Homo sapiens: one gene and its partners. The protein of the gene in region 5 interacts with the protein of the main gene of each other region in a pairwise test. Each region holds a gene or a part of one and is shown on either strand. Other genes may lie near its edges.

Evidence for each region.
Region 1: the proteins of L3MBTL3 (region 5) and LZTR1 interact in a two-hybrid assay, tested with the Homo sapiens proteins (one large-scale study listed by BioGRID and IntAct).
Region 2: the proteins of L3MBTL3 (region 5) and PRKAA1 interact in binary tests that used the Homo sapiens proteins (3 or more experiments, as listed by UniProt).
Region 3: the proteins of L3MBTL3 (region 5) and ZCWPW1 interact in binary tests that used the Homo sapiens proteins (3 or more experiments, as listed by UniProt).
Region 4: the proteins of L3MBTL3 (region 5) and PLEKHF1 interact in binary tests that used the Homo sapiens proteins (3 or more experiments, as listed by UniProt).
Region 6: the proteins of L3MBTL3 (region 5) and VBP1 interact in binary tests that used the Homo sapiens proteins (3 or more experiments, as listed by UniProt).
Region 7: the proteins of L3MBTL3 (region 5) and E2F3 interact in binary tests that used the Homo sapiens proteins (3 or more experiments, as listed by UniProt).

The regions. Positions count from the first base shown.
Region 1 is NC_000022.11:20,995,797-20,999,296, reverse strand, and holds the end of LZTR1 (leucine-zipper-like transcriptional regulator 1), read right to left. Parts: coding exon 3,425-3,500; intron 3,335-3,424; coding exon 3,185-3,334; intron 2,602-3,184; coding exon 2,496-2,601; intron 2,412-2,495; coding exon 2,331-2,411; intron 2,066-2,330; coding exon 1,949-2,065; 3' UTR 265-1,948; downstream 1-264. UniProt on the Homo sapiens protein: Substrate-specific adapter of a BCR (BTB-CUL3-RBX1) E3 ubiquitin-protein ligase complex that mediates ubiquitination of Ras (K-Ras/KRAS, N-Ras/NRAS and H-Ras/HRAS).
Region 2 is NC_000005.10:40,774,375-40,777,874, reverse strand, and holds part of PRKAA1 (5'-AMP-activated protein kinase catalytic subunit alpha-1), read left to right. Parts: intron 1-288; coding exon 289-430; intron 431-2,371; coding exon 2,372-2,465; intron 2,466-2,902; coding exon of another isoform or gene 2,903-2,947; intron 2,948-3,500. UniProt on the Homo sapiens protein: Catalytic subunit of AMP-activated protein kinase (AMPK), an energy sensor protein kinase that plays a key role in regulating cellular energy metabolism.
Region 3 is NC_000007.14:100,422,204-100,425,703, reverse strand, and holds part of ZCWPW1 (zinc finger CW-type PWWP domain protein 1), read left to right. Parts: intron 1-567; 5' UTR 568-674; intron 675-3,500. UniProt on the Homo sapiens protein: Dual histone methylation reader specific for PRDM9-catalyzed histone marks (H3K4me3 and H3K36me3). Facilitates the repair of PRDM9-induced meiotic double-strand breaks (DSBs). Essential for male fertility and spermatogenesis.
Region 4 is NC_000019.10:29,664,313-29,668,260, forward strand, and holds the start of PLEKHF1 (pleckstrin homology domain-containing family F member 1), read left to right. Parts: upstream 1-1,148; 5' UTR 1,149-1,193; exon of another isoform or gene 1,194-1,244; coding exon of another isoform or gene 1,245-1,483; intron 1,484-1,506; exon of another isoform or gene 1,507-2,868; intron 2,869-3,948. UniProt on the Homo sapiens protein: May induce apoptosis through the lysosomal-mitochondrial pathway. Translocates to the lysosome initiating the permeabilization of lysosomal membrane (LMP) and resulting in the release of CTSD and CTSL to the cytoplasm.
Region 5 is NC_000006.12:130,063,581-130,067,080, forward strand, and holds part of L3MBTL3 (lethal(3)malignant brain tumor-like protein 3), read left to right. Parts: intron 1-2,772; coding exon 2,773-2,908; intron 2,909-3,500. UniProt on the Homo sapiens protein: Is a negative regulator of Notch target genes expression, required for RBPJ-mediated transcriptional repression. It recruits KDM1A to Notch-responsive elements and promotes KDM1A-mediated H3K4me demethylation.
Region 6 is NC_000023.11:155,229,960-155,233,459, reverse strand, and holds part of VBP1 (prefoldin subunit 3), read right to left. Parts: intron 1-3,500. UniProt on the Homo sapiens protein: Binds specifically to cytosolic chaperonin (c-CPN) and transfers target proteins to it. Binds to nascent polypeptide chain and promotes folding in an environment in which there are many competing pathways for nonnative proteins.
Region 7 is NC_000006.12:20,404,879-20,408,378, forward strand, and holds part of E2F3 (transcription factor E2F3), read left to right. Parts: intron 1-3,500.

The DNA of each region.
Region 1 (3,500 bases), on a different chromosome or scaffold from region 5:
GGTCATGTCAGCAGGTAGTAAAGCCCCAACAAGCTAGTCCCTGGAAATCTAGGAAGAGGTGGCCAGAACATGGAGACAAGCACTCAGGTCCTGGCCTCAGCATCCTTTTCCTTCAACTCCCAGGAACCTGGAAGGCCTTGCTGCAGCTGCAGTTCTCAAACAGCTCCGTCTTGGGGTGACTCACTGCAAGTATGGCCTCTCCCTGCCGAGGAGCACAAATGAAATTCATTCTAGTCCCAGAAACTGCCACACAATTTCGTAAAATTTGCTTTTTAGGGCCCTTGGCATGTAATTTCATTTATTCATATAAGTCTAGATCAGGGTTCAGTGACAAGGGTCAGCATAGAGCAGGGTTGCAGACTGGTTCAAGGAGGCTTCTGGGTAGGCCCCTCCAGGAGGGATTTGGAGGAGGCTGCCCTGTGGGTGTGGCAGGAGCCACATCTTGTGGAAACTGGGTAGATGGGTGTGTGGCCCCACTCTGAGTGAATGCACCTGGCCCACATGGCTGGGCGCTGCAGCCTGCACTCCACTTCCAGGTGCTGACATATCCTCCCCAGCCATGGTCCTGGGCCTGCTGTGTCCTCACCTCAAGGGCCTCCCGGCTCAGCCTCTGCCCCAGCTCCTGCTCTCTCCTCCCTTGTTCCCAGCTCATCTTGCACTAGGCCACTTCCTAGCCTGCAGGCTGCCTATGGATCTCCTGTTAGCTAAGCAACTTGCCACTCAGGGCCCCCCACACACCTGCATACACCCAAAGGAGAGCAGGTCACTTCCCCAAGGAGCTGTGGCTTCATGGCAGCCACAACAAGAAAGGGGTCCTGGAATCCTGTTCCCAGTAAGGGAGCGCTGGCTCCCAGCACTAGAGTGGATCCACATGGGGCCCTCACTAGGGCAAGAGGGCAGCCCTCCTTCCACAGGAGCCAAGAGCATAGTGCAGGGGCAAGGCAGGGCAGAAGGGGCAGGAGCCCACCCCAGGCCTCCAGGATTCCCCTGGAAGGGGCCAGCCTGGAGGCCTTCACAGCCCTTCCCAATGTGACTGGGTGACCCCAGGTGGAGGCAGGAGTTGACAGCATGGATAGAGACAGGTAAGGCCACTGACCTACATCTGGGGGTCTGCTAAGCCATGGGCTGCTCAAGGGGCTGAAGCCAGCAGTGGTGGCCGGGCCAGCAAGGTGTGTGTGGTGGGTAGCACTGCTGTGGCTTTAATGGAGGCTTGTCTGTGACAGAATACTCAGCAAGGGACACGGGGGACTTTGCTGGCTTCTTCCCGGCCGAGCCCTGACATGCACACAGGTGGACTGGGATCCTTCAGCCCCTGTGAAAACCAGGCCTGGCCCAGCACGACCGACCTGGGAGCTGACCTCAGGGCCCTTCACTCCAAAATTCACCTCAAGTCAGGTGAGACCCATACATCATGGGTCCCCACTCACAAGTTCCAGGTGGGAAGAGGAGCCCCTTACATGGATCTCAGTGAGGGTGGGTGGGACAGGAGCAGCCCAGGCAGATTCGCTGGTGCAGCGCAAGTCTGCTAAGCCTCCTCCCGCATGTTGGAGGAGCCTTGGTGACAGGCCCCAGTGCCTGAGTCCACAACACGCCCAGGCCACAGAAGCCAGGCCAAGCCCCACTGGGTGGGAGGCCCAAAGTCTCTCCCCACTTCTGGGTGGTGAGCCCATCACTGAGCCGTGGCCTCGCATCCACACTACACCAGGAGAGGGTGATGACAGGAGGGGGTCTGCTTCATCATCCGCTCCCTGTGGGACCTGTGTCTTCAGTGAATTAATGAGTTTGGGGCCCCACATCCCCTCAGCTCTCTTTGGAGGCTCTGGGCACCCTGACCCTTGGCCTGGCAGGTGCACCCACTGCCATAGGCATGCGCATAGCCGGTAGTCTTCTCAGTAGGCAGGGCAGGCAGGCACGGCGATTCTTCACAATGGGCAGGCGCCACAGGGCCTCAGATGTCGGCGCCCAGCTCTGCGCACTGCTTGTCTGAGATGTGGGAGGCCAGGGAGTCTATGATGTCCAGCAGCAGCTGCTGGCTCAGCGACCGCAGGGTGGGCAACTTGGAGACCTGTAAGGCAAGCAGGCCGGAAGGAGATGGGACCAGATCCACCTAAGGGCCATGGTGGGCAGTGGAGCCCTGTGGGGCCTACCCTGCTCAGGGCTCAGGCTGGTCCCAAGGATGAAGCAAGGTGCGGCCAGTGATGGGCTGCTCTGCTTCTCTCACCCCCAGGGCCCACCACTGCAGGGGACCACAGAGCCTGGGCACCCTCCCTGCCTGGGCATGGCCACTGCCAAGGGGAAGCGAGTCCTGAAGGGGAGGCCAGAGCCCTGACCTTGGTGAACTGGTGCACAATGATGTGCAGGCAGTGCCGCTTCATGTCCAGTGCCTGCGTTTTGTCAGCTGCCTCCAGGATCTGCAATGGCAGGGACCTTGAGGCGCTGCCCCTTTCACCCACTCAGTGGGAGCTGCAGCCATGTGCACGGGGCTGGGGGGCTACCTGCAGCACGTTCTGCACCGTCACGTTCATCTCCAGGTTCTGCTTGCAGTACGCCTGCAGCCGGTTGTTGTAGAAGCCGTAGTAGTAGGGGGCCGCAAACAAGTAGCTGGGGCCTGGTTAAGGAGCTGACTAAAGGAAGCTGGTCCGCCCGCACCCTCCCAGGGAAGGACAGGGAAGGGCGCAGCTGGAGCCCCAAGCCCCCACGCCAGCATGCTCTCCAAATGGATTCTGAACTACTTAGTGGGTCAAAGGCCCCATTCAGGATCCAAAGAAAACCATGAATCCCCTCCCGAGAAAAATAGTGTCTGTACATCTGTAGCGCTGTTCCATGGCCTTGCAGGCCTAACAGGCATCCTGACCCTCCATGTTCAGACCCCTACTGAAGTGACATAAGGAGTACCTCCATGTCTGTGCTCAACTGTCACACAAAGCAATGACCCACCCCGTCCTCTGGGCAGTTGTGAGGGTCAGGAACCCACTGGTTCCTCCTGGCTGCAAACCCCTCCTTGCCAGCTGCCAACTGCTTCAGAGAGCACCAGGCCCAGCCCCAGGCACCAGCAAACCCTCTGGAGGGAGGCGCTGGGCCCAGATCACCTAGCTGGGGCAGGAGAGCGGGCCTCAAAGCCACCTGAGGTGGGTGCCAGGACCCCTTGGTGGGGACCTGGGAGTTCACTGGGGAGTGAGGATGCAGCGAGTCCTCGGGCGGCATGTTGACCTCGCCGTAGTAGATGTAGCGCAGCATGGACTCGAAGGCCTGCCTGCTGGGCACCATCTCCCCGATGGAGATGTTCACCTGCCCATCTTCGGGCATGAAGGACCGGAACATGGCTTCAAAGTAGCTGCAGACAACGAGCGGTAGGCACCTGGCCGTCAGCAGAACGAAGACACCATCCAGGCCCACCCTCCCCTCCTGTCCAGCCCCCACCCACCTGGAGCGGGCGGCCAGGATAGCCTTGTGGGCTGGCCGTGGGTGCCCGTCAAGCAACAGAGTGATGTCACAGAATT
Region 2 (3,500 bases), on a different chromosome or scaffold from region 5:
TCTCGAACTCCTGATCTCAGGTGATCTGCCCGCCTCGGCCTCCCAAAGTGCTGGGATTACAGGCATGAGCCACCGCTCCCGGCCATTAATTTTTGTATTTTTTAGTAGAGATGGGGTTTTGCCATGTTGGCCAGATTGGTTTCGAACTCCTGACCTCAAGTGATCTACTCGCCTCGGCCTCCCAAAGTGCTGGGATTACAGGCATGAGCCACTGCACCGGGCCAGAATATGTGTAAATATATTATTAATCATACTTAGTACTAATTTATTAAATTACTTCTTTTACAGTTGGCAAACATGAATTGACTGGGCATAAAGTAGCTGTGAAGATACTCAATCGACAGAAGATTCGGAGCCTTGATGTGGTAGGAAAAATCCGCAGAGAAATTCAGAACCTCAAGCTTTTCAGGCATCCTCATATAATTAAACTGTAAGCTCTGTTTATATTAAATATAGTCCAGTCATCTTTTCATCTTTTTTGTTAACCTACTTAATGTGACAAGTGAGAAAAATGACTGACACTTCTTTTTGTTTCCTAAGGGTTTTGAAAAGTTTCTTCCTAGGCTGTGTGCGGTGGCTCACACCTGTAATTCCAGTACTTTGGGAGGCTGAGGCAGGCGGATCACCTGAGGTCAGGAGTTCGAGACCAGCCTGGCCAACATGGTGAAACCCTGTCTCCAGTAAAAATACAAAAATTAGCTGGGCATGGTGGTGGGCGCCTGTAATACCAGCTACTCGGGAGGCTAAGGCAGGAGAATGGCTTGAACCTGGGAGGCGGAGGTTGCAGTGAGCTGAGATCGTGCCATTGCACTCCAGCTTGGGCAACAAAAGCGAAACTCTGTCCCAAAAAAAAATAAAAGTTTCTTCCCATTCATGTATTTTTCTAACCCCATTGATGGTCATTTAAGCCTGTGTTCATGTTTTGCCCTTGTGCTTATCAGCTGTTATCTTCTCATTCTTTCCTGTCTCCTGGAAAGATGCTCTTCTGGTAATGTTTGGTGCCCCATTGCTGTAAAACCAACAGTGATCTGCTAGTAAAAACTCTTGACCTCCAAATGCCCACATGATGTCAGTTAGCCTCACTAGTGAGAATGCGGTAGTAGAAAGGGTTTTTCCCCATCCTGCTTATACCTGAACATATAGATAACAAAATTTCAGGAATCCAAGGTTTCAAAAGGGCAGTAATCTTACTGTTGTTTTACAGTTGCCAGTTATAGAGTCTACAAATAACTATTTCCTGCTCAGCTTCTGCTTTGTTATGCAGGCAATAACTTAAAGATGCTTAGGTTTTTCTCCTGAACTGGCTGACTCAAACTTGTTTCACTCTTACCTCTTCTCATTTGTTGAGTGCTAGGTTTTAAATACCATCCATATGCTGACCACCCCTAAATGTACATCTCTTGCTTTAAGATCTCTTCTTACACCAGACTTATTTGCTCACTGCTGACTTTACATTTCCATTTGGATGTTCGCAAGACATTTAAAACTCAACCCGGCCCAAAATGAACTCTTTATTACTCTCCCAAACCTGCTCTTCCCACAGTTTTCACCATCTTGGCTAACAGCCAATGACCCAGGGCTAAAACTTAGGAACCATTTTTAACTTCCCTGTTTCTTTCACTTTCTACCATGCATTTCATTTCTTCCTTCACAATCAAGCTAGGATTTGATTGCTTCTCAGTTCCTTTATTGCTGTCAACCTGGTCTCAGCCACCATCTGTCTCATGAAATCCTGAAGTAACCTCCTGTGGCTACCTTTACTGTTGACAGTTAATTCTTCACATTGCTGCCATAGTTTTACTTTTAATATGCCAGATCACATGACTGCTTAAAACGTACGATAGCTTTTCATCTTCCTTGGAGTAAAAGCCAAAGCCTTATCATGGCTTGTAAAATTCTGTGTCTTCTGGCCTGCAGTTAACACCTTTGACTCTACATCCTATTTCTCTCTAATATTCCTCGAACATGCCAAGCAGGCTTCTACTTGGGGACCTTTGCAGTTGCTATTCCCTCTCCCAGTTTCGCTTTCCTCCTAGATAATTACATAATTTGTTCCCATTCTTCTTTTAGGCTCAGCTCAAATGTTACTTTATTAGAGGCTTTCCTTTAGCACTCTGTATACAAAGATTCCCCTTCATTTGCTTTATTTTTCTTCATAGCATGTTCCACCACCTGAGATATTGCTTATTTATTTAGTGTCTGTTTCCTGGTTCCTGGAACATGAACTCCATGAGAGCAGAGAATTTTTGTTTCCTGCAGTTTTTCTAGCTCCTAGCCTAGTACCTGGTATACTATAGGTGCTTAGTAAATATTTATTGAATGAATGAATATATGTGTTTTAATATTTGTAGACAATGTTTTCTCTCACCAGGTACCAGGTCATCAGTACACCATCTGATATTTTCATGGTGATGGAATATGTCTCAGGAGGAGAGCTATTTGATTATATCTGTAAGAATGGAAGGGTAAGCTGTTCTGCTTTAATTCTGTATGTATTTTGTAACTCCCCTTTATCCTTTACTAGCATCAAAATGTCAGCAACCAATTTTAAGAGGTCTATTTAATAACCAGTTCCCTTAGTCATATATTTGTTTAGAATCATAAACTATGTAGAACTAGAAAGGATCTTAAAGATTATCTCCTTAGCCTGTTTATACAGATGTGGATACTGAGCCTCGCGGCTTATATGATTGCTCACAGTAACGTGATTTATTAATGACGGAATTGGCTTGAGCCCCCAGAACTCATAATCCTCAGACTTATGCTTCCAGGGTATACAAATACTTTGAATATGTATCTTAATGTAATTAATCGTTACAAAATATATTATTATTACTTAAAGATCTAGGCCTTGCTAGTCAATTCTAGCCACATTTAAATTGCATTCATTTTTTGGTTTCAGAAATCTGATGTACCTGGAGTAGTAAAAACAGGCTCCACGAAGGAGGTAGGAATTAGATATAAAGAATTTACAGCTGGAAGGAACTTTGTAGGACATTTTGAACACTACCTTAAGTTACAGATACAAAAACTCAACACTGCCCTCTGCCCATACTTTTTCTCATACCCAGGTTATGTGGTATGCAAAAGCCCCTTTGTGGGAGAGCTGTAGCTAGCCCTGAAAAGAGAGCTTTTCTCTCAATTTTAAGTTATTTACATTACTCATTCATTTGTTCTATATAGCATGTCTATTTACTTTTATCAAAATCAAACTTATTAACCAAGTTAATTTTGATTTTACTATTTCTTAACATGATTCATTTCTATTTCAGGTACTCCCCTTTACTCCTGCTTCTCCTTACCAAAAAAAAAAAAAAAAAAAAAATTCTGCCTGGAGAAATGGGAAACAGGCACAATTGATATATATTTTTCTTATCTTTTCTGTTGTTGTTTATTTCTTGGTTTTACCTTGTGGGTATTTCTTCAGTTTTACCAGTTGAATATTAAAATTTCAGCACCCGTATTTTCTATTTCAAAAGTTTCTTATTTTCTGAAATTTT
Region 3 (3,500 bases), on a different chromosome or scaffold from region 5:
GAAAACAACTGGGTTCTCGTCTGTTTCTGCATTCAGTCTGTTGGGATATCTTGTTTTTGTAAAAGTACATGAGAAAATCCAGCTTAATACAGATAGGTAGTTGGAAAAGGGAGAGGGCCCCCTAGGATTTTGGGACTACACTTAGAACTGCTGAGTTAGGTGATTTCATCTCAAAATTTATGTGATGGTTTTTAATGTTCTAAGTGAAATAAAACTCTTTTTTGAGATCCTCATTCACCTTCCCTTGGTTCCCTTTATTATTTCTAAGTTCTTTTTCCCTCCTTATTTACCCTCATTTCATATGTTGAGTGATGAGAATATGGTTTCTGGAACTGTACTGGTTCTTTTACATTCTTATTTAAAGCCTTTGCCCCTCTTATTAAAGCCTTCCCCGCAACCCCACACCCTGCCCCTCTTCATCTAAGGTAAGAAAAGAGAAATTAAAACCTCAAATTTTATTCCTGGGTCTACAGCCCCTAGTCATTTAGTAGCTGTACAGAAGAAAGTTAGTGGTATTTTATATTTTTATTAACTGTCTATATTTTTTTCTCTCTCTCTCTGAACCAGCTTTCAGTATTTGTTATTGTGAAAGAAGTTAATTCACCTGAAACAGAGGAGGGGCAACCTGAGTTATCAGAAAGTGACTTCCTGGCCTTCCCTTCTTTACTGATCAGGTTAGAGCTTTTGTTTGAAAGCAGTGTTATCACATGCACAGATTATACATATTATGTGATACTATACATCACTGTTTATAGATTTATTACATCTTATTAACTCAACAACAGTGAACCACAATTCTATCTAGTTGGTTGGGGCTCCAGAAATATACTTTGGCCTAGGAAGATCTTTACAGGTTTAGATAAGGATTTGAACCTAAATACTGGAAATGTTTGCATTTTTAGGTTGGTCGAAATACTCTCTTTTAATTTTACTTAAAGAATTTCGGCCGGGCACGGTGCGTCATGCCTGTAATCCCAGCACTTTGGGAGGCTGAGGCAGGTGGATCATGAGGTCAGGAGATTGAGACTATCCTGGCCAACATGGTGAAACCCCGTCTCTACTAAAAATACGAAAATTAGCTGGGGGTGGTGGTGCGCTCCTGTAATCCCAGCTACTCGGGAGGCTGAGGCAGGAGAATCGCTTGAACCTGGGAGGCAGAGGTTTCAGTGAGCCAAGATTGCACCACTGCACTCCAGCCTGGTGATAGAGCAAGACTGTGTCTCAAAAAAAATAATAATAATTTAAAATATTTTTTGAAGTGGCAACATTTATAGGTTTTAAAATGCCAAAGATAAACGAGGGAGTCCACCAAAAGCTTCCTTTCACTCTCATCTACCCAGTTCTACTCCCCAGAGGCATTTTGATCCATTTTTTTTCTCTTCCAGAGAAAATTTATGATTAACAAGCCTATTATACCAGACATATGTTTTTAAAAACTAAATGTTGTCATCTGAAACACACTAATTTTCACTCTGCTTTTCTCACTTAGCATAGCCGTTGTAATTTAGACAGAGACTTCTTGTGATCTTTTTTGGAATTTTAAAGTCTAGGAAAAGATATATTTGTCATTTGTGGTCAAATTAATATTCTTTTTACAGGCTAATTTTACCCAGTCTTTTTTTTTTTTTTTTTTGAGACGGAGTTTTGTTCTTGTTGCCCAGGCTGGAGTGCAATGGCGCGATCTTGGCTCACTGCAACCTCCGCCTCCTGGGTGCAAGCGATTCTCCTGCCTCAGCCTCCTGAGTAGCTGGGATTACAGGCGCCCGCCACCACGCCCGGCTAATTTTTTGTATTTTTAGTAGAGAAGGGGTTTCGCCACGTTGAACAGGCTGGTCTCGAACTCCTGACCTCAGGTGATCCACTCGCTTCAGCCTCCCAAAGTGCTGGGATTACAGGTGTGAGCCACCATGCCTGGCCAATTTTATCCATTCATTACCTTCTATTTAGAATTATAATAAAGGAGATTAATTTGCTTGAGTGTTTCTCCCCAAAATTCCAACTTGCCTTTTTTTCTGGAGCAAATATGTTTTGGGATTGGTGATGATGAGTTAAAATGGAAACAGCAAGAAAATGTGCCCCTTAATATAAAGGAAACGTCGTTGCTTTAGAACAGCACATCTGAATTATTCACATTTATAGAAGTGAGAAAAGGAAGAGAAAAATGCTGAAGGGTATTCACATTTAGCCATGCTGTGGCCACGCTGTCAAAACCTCAGTACCCTTTAAGTTTATCTTATGGTCTAGAGAGAGGAACCCTACACCTTGAACGAGTTTGGCCATTTAAGGTCTTAAAATTTTCTGATCCTTTAAAGGGAAGTGTATATGAACCAAATGATCCATTTTACGTCGCTTTTGGATCTCTTTATAGTGGGGGATCACAGATTTAGAACAAAGAGTTTCAGTTGCAGGGTTTTCAAACTGCTCAAAGCCAACAGCCAGAAACAAGATCACTGAGTAGAATAGATATGTTATTAGTAGAATTGAGAGGCAAAAGTCCTGGGTTCATCTAAGCTCAACAATATATTAACACTGAGTCTTTAGGCAAACCACTTAACCTCTGTTAGCATATTTTTTTTATCTGTAGAAAGGGGAGTTGGGGCTTTATTATCCCTAAAGGTCTTCCCAGAGCTATAATGCTTTTTATAATGGTTATAAAAGTAAGAATGGCATATATCCCCTAAGCCTAAAGAAAACTGGGTGAAGGGCTGCAAGAAGTTAAGGTTAATAAAATAAAACTTTTCTTCAGAAAGCTGGGTGGACACAGAATACTATGCAGCCATATAAAAGAACAAGATCATGTCCTTTGCAGCAACATGGATAGAGCTGGAGGCCGTTATCCTAAGTGAATTAACGCAGGAACAGAAAACCAAATACTGTATATTCTCACTTATAAAGTGGGAGCTCAACATTGCATACACATGGACACAAAGAAGGGAACAATAGACACTGGGGCCTACTTGAGGGTGGAGAGTGGGAGGAGGATGAGGACTGAAAAACTACCTATTGGGTACTATACTCACTACCTGTGAAACAAAATTATCTGTACACTAAATCCCATGACATGCAATTTACCCATGTAACAAACCTGCACATGTACCCCTTGAATGTAAAATAAAGGTTGGAAAGAAAAAATAAAAATAAAGCTGTATGGAAATAATATCAGTAGTGGGAAAGTATAAATTGGAAAATAAAAATACTGGAATGTTCGCAGATGAGTCTTGGCACACTGGTGGGTCACGAATAGCTTGTAGCTGTGTAGATACTAATTTCTTCTTCAGCCTTTGGTGTGACTCTTCAGTTGCCTATGGCTGTGAGCAGCCTGGTCCTTTTACCCCCAGAGTACCTGGAAATGTCATTTTCTATGTGTTTCAGTATACGCTATTAATGTATGTTTTCTGTGTGTGCTGTGATAGCAAAATGGTGGTGAAGCACTGAATTAGACTGTTAGGATGTCGTGTAGCAGTTATTAGCACAAACTTTGAAATCAGACAGGTTCTAAT
Region 4 (3,948 bases), on a different chromosome or scaffold from region 5:
CTGGTAGGCAGCCCTGAATCCCACGAGCGGCCTCAGGAGAGGACTCTGGGTTGGGAGATGCTTTGCAAAATTACAAACACGGGTGACTGTGGAGGGAGATGGGGTGGAGACAGGGAACCGCTTTGGGTGGCCAGGGCAGCCTCCCTGAGGAGGTGACAGTTTGAGGTCTGATGGAGGTAGAAGCAAAGGCCTGAGGCTTTAAGGAACAGGAAGAAGCCCATTTGAGAGGACCTGTGGGGAGGAGGCCAGGGAGGGCCAGGAAGGCCTCCGGGCACTGAGGCCTGGGAATTTCCTTCTGAGCCGCACAGGAGGCTCAGGTGCGGTTGAGTCAGGGGTGACATAACTTGCTGCTAGTGTTGGACCTGGGTGACGGGCACCAGGGTCCCCTGGACTATTCTCTTTCCTTCAGTTTGAAATTTTCCACTATAAAAAGCTTAAAATAGGCCAGGTGCGGTGGCTCACTACTGAAATCCCAGCACTTTAGGAGGTCAAGGCGAGAGGATGGCTTGAGCTAAGGGGTTCGAGACCAGCCTGGGCAACATAGTGAGACCTCCGTCTGTACAAAAATACAAAAACTAGCCGGTCCTGGTGGGCTAATTCTCCTGGGGTCAGGATGATTTCTGTGCAGGCTGCAGTGAGCCGTGACCGCGCCATTGCACTCCAGCCTGGGCGACAGAGGGAGACACCGTCTCAAAAAAAAAAAAAGGTTATAAAGTGCTGCTGCATTTTCATATTACGATTATTGACCGCTGAGGGTGACTGTGCTGTGAGGCCCGCCGGAGGCACCAGAAGGCACAAGCCTCCCACTGCCCCTTTCCCCGCCAAGTCCCGCAGGTCTCGCAGTCGCGGGCGCCCCCACCCCACCCCTGCCCAAGGCCAGGGTCGCAGTCCCACCGGGTGACGGCAGTCGCGCTCCGCGTGGGGCAGCGGCGAGCGGAAAGGGAAGCCGGGCGGGGCCAGGGGGTCAAACACGGGCGACAGTCCCGCCCAGCCCCGGACCTGCAGCGCGCACAAGCTCGGGCGCCCTCCGAGCGCCGCGCCCAAGCCCCGCCCCTCCCGCTTCCCGGGCTCCGATTGGCCGAGCCACCGCGGGGGCGTGTCCGGCGGAGCTGGCCGGGACCCGGGCGGAGCGGGCGGGGACCCGGGCTACTGCGGTGTGGACTCGAGGGCTGGGCGCGGGGCCGGCGCAGAAGGTGAGTCCCCCCACCGTCCCCCGGCCGGGCTGCGGGTCGCGGGGCAGGCGCATGAGGCGAGTCTCCCATCACCACCCCCGGACAAGCGAGCTCTCTCCCGCCGCGCGGTCTTGGCGGCTCCTGGGCCGGCGGGGCGCAGTGCCGCTGACTCCAGCCCAAGAAGAGGCCTGGGAAGGGCGCTCCTGGGCGGCTTGCGGGGTGAACCTGCAGGGAGCCTGGGGAGAGCGGTCAGGGGTCAGAGCGTCCGAGGCGGAATCCCCGGGGAAACGCGCAGATGTAAGCTGGTGGAGGTAAGGGGGTCGCGGGCCACCCGGGACTGCAGGGGTCTCAGCGCACCCGGTCGCTGGTGGTGTTTCCGGGATCCTGGCCTCGTGTGGCCGCCGGGACCTCTCTTCTCAGCCCCAGTCTGCAGTCTGGAGGCCTGGATGGGACCACTGTCCCCCTGGGCAGGGGCGCGGCGGGGGGCGCTGGGGTCCCAGTTCCTCTGGAGCAGTTGAGTTTGTGATTCTTGGTGGGAGCTGCCAAGGGAAACAGGGTCGGGCACTGCTCCCATCTCAGAGAGGAAACTATTGAGCAGGCCCGCAGAGAGAGGCGGCCTGGAATCTCCCTCCTTTCTCGTTTCCCCAACACCTGGCGGGCCGTGTAGGGCAGAGGTGTGGTCAGCCTCTTTGCAGGTGGGAAAGCAGAGAGGTTCCGAGCCACGCTGAAACTTGATCTCTGCAGCCCAAGGGGAGCACTCCTTTGGAATTTGAACACCTCTGGTATCTCCTGGCCAGAGAGGGTCAGAGGCCAAGGAGGTGGGGAGGTAGTCCCCTAATGCGCTGGGATCGTCCCTCTGCACAGCGTCGTTCCCACTGGAGTCTGTTGTGAGCTGAGATGACTCTCTGACTTCGGCCTGCGTCCCTGCACACGTCAGCCCTCCGGGCTGCCAAAACACAGGCCAGGCAGCCCTGGGTGAACTAGGGGACCTGCCCAACCCAGCCCACCCCGAGGAAGGAAGGGGGATTGGCCAGTGTGGCCTGGAGGGTGGGACAGCCCAGCCAAGCTGACGGACCTGCTCGGGATGGGGTGGGCATCAGGCATTTGGAGCGCAGGCAACACCCGCTGGACTCTGACTTCTGGAGTTCTGATTTGGTCTCTGGTTGAGTGCAGCTTTCCACAGCTCATGGTTATTTTGGAGCCGAGCTTCCTGATCACTCAGCAGGGACCTTGGGCAGTGACTTTGATGTGGTGGAAGTACCTTCCCCAAGGGGGCTTTTGTGAGGATTAAGTGAAATAATGAACGTAATATGCTTAACTTTGTGCCTGGTGAGCTCTAAGTGCTCAGTCGGCGGCACTTCCAGTTTTGTTTTGCTTTGTTTTTCATTACCGGTCTCTTCCCGGAGGAGGGCCTTCCAGGAATCACAGGGCTGGACAGAGCCCAGGGGCGGCCCCTCTGGAGGGAGAGGAGGCTTGGCGCCTGATGCTGCAGTCTCAATGCACATGGAGAAAACCTCACATCCTCACGCTGGCCTGGGAGCCTGCAGGATGTCTCCTGCCGGCACTGCAACCTCATCTGTCCTCCTTGCCCCATCGCTCCTTCCTCCGCAGCCTGACTTCACCCATTCCACCTTGAGCTGCTCCCCAGGACCGGAGCTCTGCCCCTAGATCTTTGCACAGCTGACTTCAGGCTGGAGTGAGTTCACTTCCTCCCAAGGCCTTCCTTCCTCGACCTCCACCGTCCTCCCAGGCCCTGCCCTGCTGGGCGCACCAGTCTTTTTCTTCACAGTGTTTAGCACTGGCTCTCAGAAAAGACCCTGTGAATGTACTTCTAGTCTCACTGGCAAGAAGTGTGCATTCCTGAAGGGCCTGGTCTCCAGCTCCCGGCTGTAACCTCGCACAGTGTCTGGCACACAGTGGGACTCATAAATATTTGGAAAATGAAATCAGGCAGGCATGGAAGCAGGGTGGGTCTGCGTGCGGCCCAGGTCCCTGCAGGGAAGGAGGAGCCCCGATCTGGAAGTCAAGGGAAAGTCCAAAGGGCTGAGCTGCCCCCAGAACTCTGATTCCCTTGGTGACCCTGGCCCTGCACGTCCCTGAGCAGGTTCTCCACCTGTAACCCGAGGCAGAGCAGTTACAGCCCCCACCCCATCCCCCACCGCTGCCCAGCTCCTACTTTCCAGGGCTACCATCTTGGGGCCCCACGCATCTCTCATTTATCCAAAATGCTGTGTCCGGAGTAGGAGAGAGGACAGGACGACTCCCGTCAGGACAGTACCTTGTGTGGCCTGTTCAGCGTGCCCTGCAGTGTGTGCATTATACATTTTACAATGTGGCATGGTGTAGATCAGGGGTTGGCTAACCTTTTCTCTCAAGAGCTGGTAGCAAATAGTTTAGGTTTTGCCAGCCATACAGCCTCTGTCCCACATGGCTGTGTTTGAATAAAACTGGATTTAGAAAAGCTGGCAGTGGCCCAGATTTGGTGTAGCTCTCCAGCCCCTGCTGTTGATCACGTATCACACCTGGGCTGCCACATACAGAACCTGGCTTCATGGCTTCTGCAGCCACACGGGGGCTCTCAGGATGTGGCTCCCAAGCCGCAGTGCTCACATGAGCACCTCCAGCCCCTGTGCAGGCAGCAGGATTGCTGAGCCTGAGAGCCCCCACCCCTCTGAACCCTCAAAGAAAGATGCAGGTCTGTTCGTTGCCTGGTCTCCCAGGCTTACTGAGCCTGCGCTGGGGTCACCCCTCTACCAGCAGCCCTGGGGCCACACTG
Region 5 (3,500 bases):
TAACCTTGTTTTATGTGTGTTTCTGTTTAAAGACACCTCATTTAATGTATATCGTTCATTCATTAAAAATTGAACTCACAAGTAAGAGCACTATCACTCCTGCCTGATGAAGCTTATCTAGCACAAGTATCTTCTCTGTAAGGCAACATCACAACCTTTTGGCACTTAGGGACACTAAACAACACCTCAGCACTATGTCAGGGGCCATTTTAAACAGTAACATCACCCAAGAAAAGCACAAAAATGTAGAATATGTGGCACTAAATGGACCACACAAAAGACACTTATTCCCAGTACGAGAACTGAAACAGGAAGGTAAAGCTCCTTCTTGATTGACTTCAGCTGGGAACATGCATGTTGAGTGACTCAAAAGTGTTGTCAGTCTGTGCATGTCCACGAACACTGCGAGTATTATTTTGGGGTTACAAATAAATTGTAGCAAGTAGATGACTTCACAAACGTGGAATACAGTATGTGAATAATGAAGACTGGCGGTATGTCATTTTTTCCTTCCCATCACCATTTACTAGACTTGGTTAGGTGGAGACAAGATGGATACCTGAAATGATAGAATGTCACCAGGCAAATATTTTGCAAAGGATATCAGGGCAGAAATTTTAAAATGTTGGCAAGAAAATGTTTTTTAAATGATTGCTAGGAAAGGAAGGCTTGGGGTGAGGAGAGCTGCTAGGGAGGAAGTAAAAGGATCAGTGTGAGACTAGAGTTTCTGTTGAGATTGAGGAAGAGGCATCTGGGGGTAACTGGGTTTGCAGACTGGAATAGGAGTATGTGTCCCAGGGTTGGATTTTTAAATTTAATACTAAGAAGCAGAGCAGTTCTTGTTGGGGACTAGATTCATGGGAGTGAGGGCTTGAAGTAGAGAGGAAGGGAGTCAAAATGCCAGGGTATTGGATAAGTCATCCATATGGATGACGAAAGTACTCAGATGGAAAGGAAGAGAATAAGCCAGGGCTAAGTGTTTGGGTGGTTAGCATGGGGGAAGAAGAGGAGGAGAGTTGCTTCAGCCATATGGCTCGAGCCTCGGCAGGGGAGAACTGGCCTAGGATCCATGGTGTGGTGGGAGGCAGCAACCCGTCCTGTGTCTATGGGAGGTAGAGTTGGGAACATGAGCACCCTTGGGGAAAGGCTTGAGAAGGACGAGCTAGGTATGACTGTGGGCAAGGAGGGTGAGGATGTAGGAGATTGTTTCTCAAAGCATAGCTTTCCGGTGAGCCTGAGATAGAGACTATGGGGAGAACAGAGAGAGCTTGGCTCAAGGGAGCAGAAGCTCAGAACGGTGTGCCCACAAGGAACTAGAGGCTGTAAATTACTATAGGGCTGAGCTCTTAGGATCGGCCAGATATAGCTGACTGTGAGAGAGAGGAGAGAAGCAGCCTTCTTTGCATGGGGTGGCTGTAGGGAGTGGGGGTAGCTCCTGCTTTACCTGAGAGATTGTATTTCCCAGGGATTCCAGTCTCAGCTGTATGGAGAGACTCTGTTCTCTCTGGGGGGAGTCAGCTTAGTTGTAAATTTGATGTATGTGGTATATCAATACATTCTAATTGAAAAAATGCTGATACATAAAAGAAAATATGAAAAGTCCATCATTCCCATTTTGCCCCTTCCTTTTCACTACCACTTCCTAGAAGAAATCATTATTAACATTTTGGCAAATATACCTCCGGACTTCTTTTTACTATGTGTTTACATATGTATGCATATGTGTGTATATTAATGTATGTATATAAATGCATATACTTATGTATATACACATAATACACATATGTATACATAATCATATACCCATAAATACATGTGGACCCCCACATGTCTAATTTTCTCATAAACTTAACTCATTCTGTGTTATGTGTTCTACCACTTGAATTTTAACTATATGTTTTAGAGAACTTTCCATGACAGTAACTGTACAGCTACCTCACTATTTGAGGATTAATTGCCCTGGCTCTGCACTCTGGTCTAAGTTCATCATTCAGGGTTCTGCAGGACAGACACTCCTGGAGCGGGTAGAGGTCTGGCGTGATACGTGTTTCTACTTGAACACATCTTCTTGTGTTAGTGGGAAGAAGTCTCAGGGGCTGAACCCTCTCTCTAAGAATCCAGGGCAGGGTATGATCCAACTCAGGTCTCGTAAGCCTATATGACCTTCTAAATCAGAATGTCTCTAAGTGGGGCCCTGTAGGCATATGTATGGCATGTGTTATACAGAGTACATTCTTACTAGCATTCTTAGGAGCCTGTCTCATCCAAGTAATAAACTAGGAGAGACGCTTTTCTTTCTTTCTTCCAACCCAGCTTTGGTGGAGAAAAAAAGCTTGACTTCTGTGCATATGCACCAGCTGTGGTCTGCAGCCTTCAGTGCAGGGCAGACTGTCCACTCTGGGGCCATGCTAGAGCTGAGTGTGCTGTGCTGGTGTGCCTTCCAGCTTACCCTGGGGACACATCTTGGTACAACATAGGGAGTGGAGAAAGGACCTGCAATTGTGGGATATTATGCTTTGCCCCCTATCCGTGTGGTTGTAATGTAACTGAGAATGTTGCCAGAATGCCACAGCTCAGCTCTTCCCACTTTAATAGCTTTTGTCTTTAGATTCTGGTTATTTGTTTAGTTGTTTTATTACTGTTAATGTGGGTGGTTTGATTAACATTAAGACTATATCATGCCTGGTGTCCATGTTTATTTTTGTGTATATATATATATATATGAATATTCTGAGTTAAAAAAAATAATTCAACCTATTTTACCTGTTTCAGGTTTGTGGATACCGGATAAAGCTTCACTTTGATGGGTATTCTGATTGCTATGACTTCTGGGTGAATGCAGACGCTCTGGATATCCACCCAGTTGGGTGGTGTGAGAAAACCGGCCACAAACTCCATCCTCCAAAAGGTTTTGTCACTTTTTGTTTGATATTTTAAATTCAGTAAAAACTCATTTTCTTACATGCTACATTAGAATTGTTAAGAATTCAGACTTTATGAAAATTCAGATAGGCACAAATTTAACCTTATTGTTTATGATGAAACCATGTTTATTAAAGTTAAAGAAATAAAAGCAGAATCCAGCCTAGGAAAATAAAGTATGTTCATATGCTTATTTTCATGTAAAATAACATTTGCATGATACTCAACTTTGACTACAAATAATGTTTACCTGCAAATTTCTATTATTAAATACATACATCTTTGAAAAAACTGATTTGAAAAATTAGTTTAAATTAGTTTATATAACTAAGTTTAGTGTTAACTGGTTTAAACTAATTTTTCAAATCAGTTTTTCATTATATAGAAAATCCTGAGAAATTATGCTTGACCGTATAGATCTTAATATTTAGGAGATTGGCAAGAAGACTGTAACACTAAAAATTGGCTTAGGTGGGGGGTTGAACTCATAGCAATTACTTTTCTTATATTTGAGTACTTTATATTATAGTCCCCCAGTGATTTTCCTATTTCATGTTTATATCAAAGTTCAAGAATAA
Region 6 (3,500 bases), on a different chromosome or scaffold from region 5:
CTTTTTCTGGCTGGCAGCAGAATGAGAAGTTTGAAAGATCTAAAGTGTAAGAAAGACTAGTCATATCACTGCTTTGAAAACAGAAAGGACCATGAGCCAAGGATTGCAGGTGGCCTCTAGAAGCTGAGACTGACTCCTGGACGACAGGCAGCAAGGAAACAGGGACCTCAACCACAGAGAACCGGATTTTGCCAATAACGTGAATAAGGCTGAAATCTAATTCTCCCCCAGAGATGCTAGTAAGGAATACAGCCCTGTTGACAATTTAATTCTGGCTTTGTGGGACCCTGCACAGAGGACCCAGCCAAGCCCATCTGGATTTCTGACCTATACAGCTAGGAGATAATGGATATTGTTTTAAGCCTCTGAGTTTGTGGTAATTTGCTATGCAGTTTCTTTCACTCAACCTTGTTTGTGAAAATCACCCTTGCAGTGCTGGCGTGTAGCAGCAGTTCATTCCTCCTCTGTACTGTATAGTATTCCACAGTCTGAACACATCATGATTTACTCATCCATTCGACTATGATGAACATTTGGGTTGTTTCCAGGTTTTGGTTACTACAGAGTTGATATGAACATTCTTATACCTTTCTTTTAGTTAATATTTATACATTTCTTATATACAGCAAGAGGCAGAAAGAGATAGAGACAGGCATGGAACTGCTATGGCATAGGCAATGCATATGTTCTGCTTTAACAGATACTGCCAGTTTCCCCAGTGGCTGTGTCCATTTACACCTTCACCAACAGTAAATCAGTGTTCTCACTATTCCATGTCCTACCATCACTTAGTATCACCCTACCATTCCGGTGGGTACACAGTGAGATCACATTGTGCTTTTAATTTGCATTTCCCTGTTTACTAATGAAGTGGGACAACTTTTCATATGTTTACTGGCCATTGGGAGGCCCTCTTTTTGGAAGTCACTCACCCATTATCCTGAGGAGTTGCTTATCTTTCCATGTTATCCTTAACAAAAAAGTTTTCTAAAAAATTTAAGTATATAAATATTAGGAAAAAAATGTTTGCAGATTTGGTGAAAGGAGTACACTGTTAAGATAAAATTATAAATATCTGATAAAGTCGATTACATTAAAATTTAAAACTTCTAAGAGCTACCACAAAAGACAAGTGACAGATGAGAAAAAGTATCTGCAATATTAAGAGAAGACTGTGCATCCGAAATACATAATATATAAAGAAGACCTAAATGTCTATCAAAAAAAAAAAGAAAAAGAATCCAACAGAAAAATGGAGCAACAACATAGTCAGGAAGGGAAACAGAAGAGGAAATACAAATGAGCATTTTGTCATACAAAAACCTATAAGATGATACTATTTTCACCTATAAAACTAGCAAAAATCTAAAAATGTGGGTGAGACTGTTAATAAAAGGGTATTTTTATATACGGTTGGAGAAAATGAAAATTGGTAGTCTTTTCTGGAGAGCAATTTGATAGTATCCATCAACATGTTAAATGTGCATACTCTTAGACACAACAATTCCATTTCAAAGCAGCATACAAAAATATGCCTTTGTATACAAGTCTATATGTGCAAAAATATTTACTACAGCACCGCTCACTGTACAAGAAATTTTAAAACAATCCAAACACCCCTTGACTTGGGAATATTATCACATAGCCCTACCACAGAATAGTAAGCCAATAAAACCAAGGAGGCAAACTCTGTGTCTACTCACAAATAAAGACATCTGTGCTGAACAATATACAATATATATCCCATTTTTGTAAAAACAATTAACAAAATTCCAAATATTTAGGTACATACAGATGTACAGACATGATTAAAAGTGGGTGCATCTGGGGATGGAGCAGTAGCCTGCTGCTTTCTATTTGCTCTTTGAACCATTAGCATGTATGAACTCTGATGAAAAACTAACAAAAATGTCATTCACCCAAGAAAAATTTTTACTGAGCACTTATTATGTGTCAGGGAACTGGTAAATACACCAATCAATAACATATCAGGGAGTGCTAAGTACTTTGAAGGAAAACAATACAAGATAAACAGTACAAGTGAAACCAAGAAATGCTGACAGACAAGTCATAGCAGGTCCCTGGGGGAGCTAACAATCAGAACTGAGAACTCAAAGGATTGAGTGTGAAGAACACAGAAGTAGAAATGTGGGGCCACACTGGCAGGTTCCAGGAACAGTTAGGGGGCCACCATGGCTACAGCAGAGTGAGCAAAAGAATGAGCATAAATGAGTGCTGAGAGGGAGTAGGGCTGTCCTGTGGAAAGGACACCTCTGTATTCCACCCTTGGTGACAGGGAAACCACTGGGGTCTTGAGCAGAAAAGCGGAATCATCTGACATGTTTTAAAAGCACTACTCTGGCAGCTTAAGCAGAAGAAAGAGCTAGAATAAAGGTTCTGAGGCAGGGCCATTCCCAGCATGCTCTAAGTCTGGCAAGAAGTCCAAGTGTGGCCAAGCGAGGAAGTAAGAGAAGAACAGAGAGACTGGACACGGTGGCTCATACCTGTAATCCCAGCACTTTGGGAGGCCAAGGTGGGCAGATCACCCGAGGCCAGGAGTTCGAGATCAACCTGGCCAAAATGGCAAAACCCCGTCTCTACCAAAAAATTTAGCTGGGCATGGTAGCACGTGCCTGTGATCCCAGCTATTCAGGAAGCTGAGGCACAAGAATCGCTTGAGCCCGGGAGACAGAGGTTGCAGTGAGCTGAGATCACAACACTGTACTCCAGCCTGGGCAACAGAGTGAGACTCTGTCTCAGAAAAAAAAAAAAAGAGAGAAGTAACAGAGAGTACCAGGATGTATAGGAACTTGTCAGCCACTCAAAGAACTTGGACTTTTCCTCGGAATGTGATAAGAAACCATTCAAAGATTTTGGGCAGAATAATGGAATGACCTGATTGAGATTTCAAAGGATTAATCTGACCACTGTGCTGGAAAGACTTTAGGAATTCCAGCAAGGGCAGAAGCAAGACAGTGAATTAGGGTATTATTATGGGTTAAACAGTGTCCCCAAAAAAGATACATTTAAGTTTTAACCCCTTATACTAGCGAATGTGACCTTACGTGGAAGTAAGGTATTATGGATTGAATTCTGTCTCCCCAACAAAAAATAAGTTGGACTACTAACCCCCAGTAGCTCAGAATGTGACTTTATTTGGAGATAAGGTCTTTCAAAAGGAGAAATTTGGACACATGCATGCACACATGTGAAGATGAAGGCGGAGATCACAGTGATGCTTCTACACATCAACATGCCAAAGACTGTCCGCGAACACCAAAGCTAAGAGAGGAGGCTAGAACAGATTTTCCCTCACAGCTCTCAGAAGGAATCGACCCTGATTCTGGGGCTCATCACGGACTTCTGGCCTCCAGAACCATGAGACAGTCCATTTCAGTTGTTAAAGCCACCCAGTTTGTGGTAATTTTATTATGGCATCCCTAAAAACTAATAGACAGTATTCCCACAGTCCTGGCAAGAGACAAAGGTGGCCTGGACCA
Region 7 (3,500 bases), about 110 Mb from region 5:
TGGACATATTTTAAGCATATTTGACCCCTGCACAGTTCTGTTACTATTTCATAAACCTAACCTTAAACAACCAGCTATTGACATACTTCTTGGATTAGATTCACAGATTTGCAGGGGGTAGTTTTGATAATGGGAAATTATGAGAGCTTCAAGTTGATTTTTAAAAAATTTTAACAGTGTTTGTTGGGCCAGGTCCCTAAGACTATCTTTCAAGCCAGGTTTATTATATCTAGTTCATTGTATTTAAGTATTTAAAGTATACTAAATTACCCTCACCATCTTCCAAGTTATTTCAAAACTTTATTCTCCTTGACATGAAATTATTATTCCAGGAATAATAATATCCTTTTGAGTTTATGTGCACACAAAAGGTTTTTCATTACAGGAATATAAATGTTACTCATATACATATTCAGAAGCATTTTTTATATGATTGCAATGTATGCTGAATCATTGGTTATCTGCATTTTTTTTTTTTTTTTTTTTGAGACGGAGTCTCATTCTGTCGCCCAGGCTGGAGTGCAATGGCACGATCTCGGCTCACTGCAACCTCCGCCTCCCGAGTTCAAGCATTCTCCTGCCTCAGCCTCCTGAGTAGCTGAGATTACAGGCGTGAGCCACCACGCCTGGCCGGTTATCTACACTTTTAAGAGCTATTTCTACTGGCCGGGCGCTGTGGCTCATGCCTGTAATCCCGGTACTTTGGGAAGCCGAGGGGGGCGGATCACGCGGTCAAGAGATCCAGACCATCCTGGCCAACATGGTGAAACCCCGTCTCTACTAAAAATACAAAAATTAGCTGGGTGTGGTGGTGCGCGCCTGTAATCCCAGCTACTCAGGAGGCTGAGGCAGGAAAATCGCTTGACCCTGGGAAGCGGAGGTTGCAGTGAGCTGAGATCCCGCCACTGCACTCTAGCCTGGCGGCAGAGCGAGATTCCGTCTCAAAAAAGGAGCTGTTTCTTCTGGGAGGGTGTAGGAAATTTATCTAGTCAATGCATACAAAGTCTTAAGCACTGAATATAAAGTTTGATTTATTGTTTTTCTTATCGAAATTATATTAGACTTCCATGTAAGTCTTCGAATTTTGAATTTTGTTGATATTCTTTCCCTAAGCAGGAAAGACAGGATGGGGAAAGCTAAGTGATTGGCTGAACAAAGACCACCTAAACACTCTGTGTCCAAGAAGAGGTTGAAAAGTCTTCAGGTGGCCAGAGTTGCAGACCTATCTGGTTCTGATCCCAAGTTCTGTCTCAAGAATATCTAAGGACTTAACCAGAAGCAACTTCTTCACCTTTTTTTCAATGGGGGTAAAAATATGAGTACTACCTTACCAGCTGTAAAGCATCTATTATTTACAAATTGTATGTTCATTGGCAAATAACTTAATCTCTCAACTCAGTTTCTTCCTCTGTAACATAGGGACAAAAACAGTGTCACCTTTAAGGTTCTTTTGAAGAGTTAAATATGATAATGCATGTGAACTATTTAGCACAGTGCCTGGCAAAAAGTAGACACCCAGTACAATTCATATTTATTATACAAATGTTAATTTTTTTCTGACTTAGTGAAATAGTGTAAGGCCAGGTGCACATTGTCCCTTTGTTTACATATATGAAGAGAACTGTTAAAAGTCTTTAAGTGATCTGTAATTAATTATTTATGCCCAATTAATTTGGGCTTTTAAATATATAAAACATGGCCATCCTAGGGGTAAAATAGGGACATTTCAGTAAGACACGCCTATATAGAGATAGTGGTGTTGAACTGCCAAGCATATGCCTTGAATTGTGACAATTCAAGGCCACATCATCCTCACTTTTTTGCCTGAGTTCCACTCCGTCCATGATTCCACAGACCTGCCAACTTTTGGGTGCAGTTTATGCTTAGCGGCTTTTGTTAGACCTGAACTCTCAATCTTCACCATGTCAGAGACATGCATTAGACAAATTCCATCTTAGTTGGTGAACTGTTGGAAATGTAAGAACTCCAGAGAAACCATAGTCAGAAGTGCTACTCAATGGAGCAGACAAGGCTTCATCATTTTCTGCTGCTGCTTCTAAAAAGAAGCTGAAATTATTTTATTCTAGAAAATTTGGGATTTAATAATGTAAGAGACTATGTCCTGTCACAGTCATAGCAACCTACTGATTCTACTTTGGGAAAGAGCCCTCAGTGCTTGAAATTTTCATCTAAGAATGGAGAACCATAGGTGCTATTTCAGCAGGGTCTCTTTTCCTGTACAATTATAAAAAGAAAAGTGCCGGGTTCCTGTGGTTCTATACTCAATAATCTTGCTTCTGCTGAGATATATGGTTGATGCCAAGTTTAAGCTGGGAGACAATTTTTAGTCACTACATACCCCAAAATGGAAGTTTTAATATAATGCAGTGCCCAGACTTGGGCACTACAGGTAGCTCCACTATAATCAGTACCAAGGGCGCCACTCTAATCATCCTCTGAAACAAAGCACCCTTAAATATGGCACTGTGGGCTGAAGAACTCCACCTTGTGAACAGGAAAGGATTTTTTGTTTTTCTATAAATCGCCACCTTGTGTATTACTTGGAAGAATGGATTCTGAGATTAATGTTATACTGTGTAAAGCTAACTTGAAAACAGAAAATAATACTCTAAGCCTAGACGTGCATAAATAACATTACCTGGAGATTGACAGACGGGGTGAAAGCTTTTATTGTGGTTTCTCAGAAATATATAAAGCAGTAGTTTTCCTTTAACTCTTCTGTCTTTAATGCCATCTGCAAAGATATATCATCCATACCTTTAACCTCTTTCCTAGGGATTTGGACCCATTTGGCAAATAGCTTCAAGTACTCATAGTTAATTTTCTGGCTGGTTTTCCTAAGTTAACCTGATTTTACAAATATTCCATTTGTAGGACCAGTTTACATCTACTTTCCCAAGCTAGCCAACTTCAATTCCCTTTTAGTCATCTACTTCCTACTAACAGCTGTAACTAGGATGAGTCAAAATCAATTGCCTATGCTCACCAGATCCCTGATAAATTCCCATGAAGCCACCTGAAAGGTGGTAAAAGCAAGGTAAAACGTGGTGAAAGCAAGGTAAAGAAGGTAGATTTCACAATTTTGTTTTTTAAAAAGGGGAATCTTCCCTGAATTCTTTGAGGTACTAAGTACGTGGTTTAATGCATATTTTCATTCTTGTTAGCAGTTTAAAAATAATGTTTCAGAGACTGTATTCACGATTGCTAAAAAGCATTTTTTCTACTAATCATTGTTCATGGGACTTAACAATGGAAGATAACTGGGAAAGCAGTAAATATAGGAAACCACTAATAGTGTCTCCTTCTTCCTACCCTGACCCTCTCTTTGGCTTCAGAAAGTGACGAGGAAAATGTATCTTTCACAAAGAAAAGTTATACCACAGAAGGTACTAAAAAGCAACAACTGCCTTTGGGGACAGGAAACTTACAGAGTGGGGATTATTATAGAGGGATAACATACCGAGTTTCTATTTCAATAA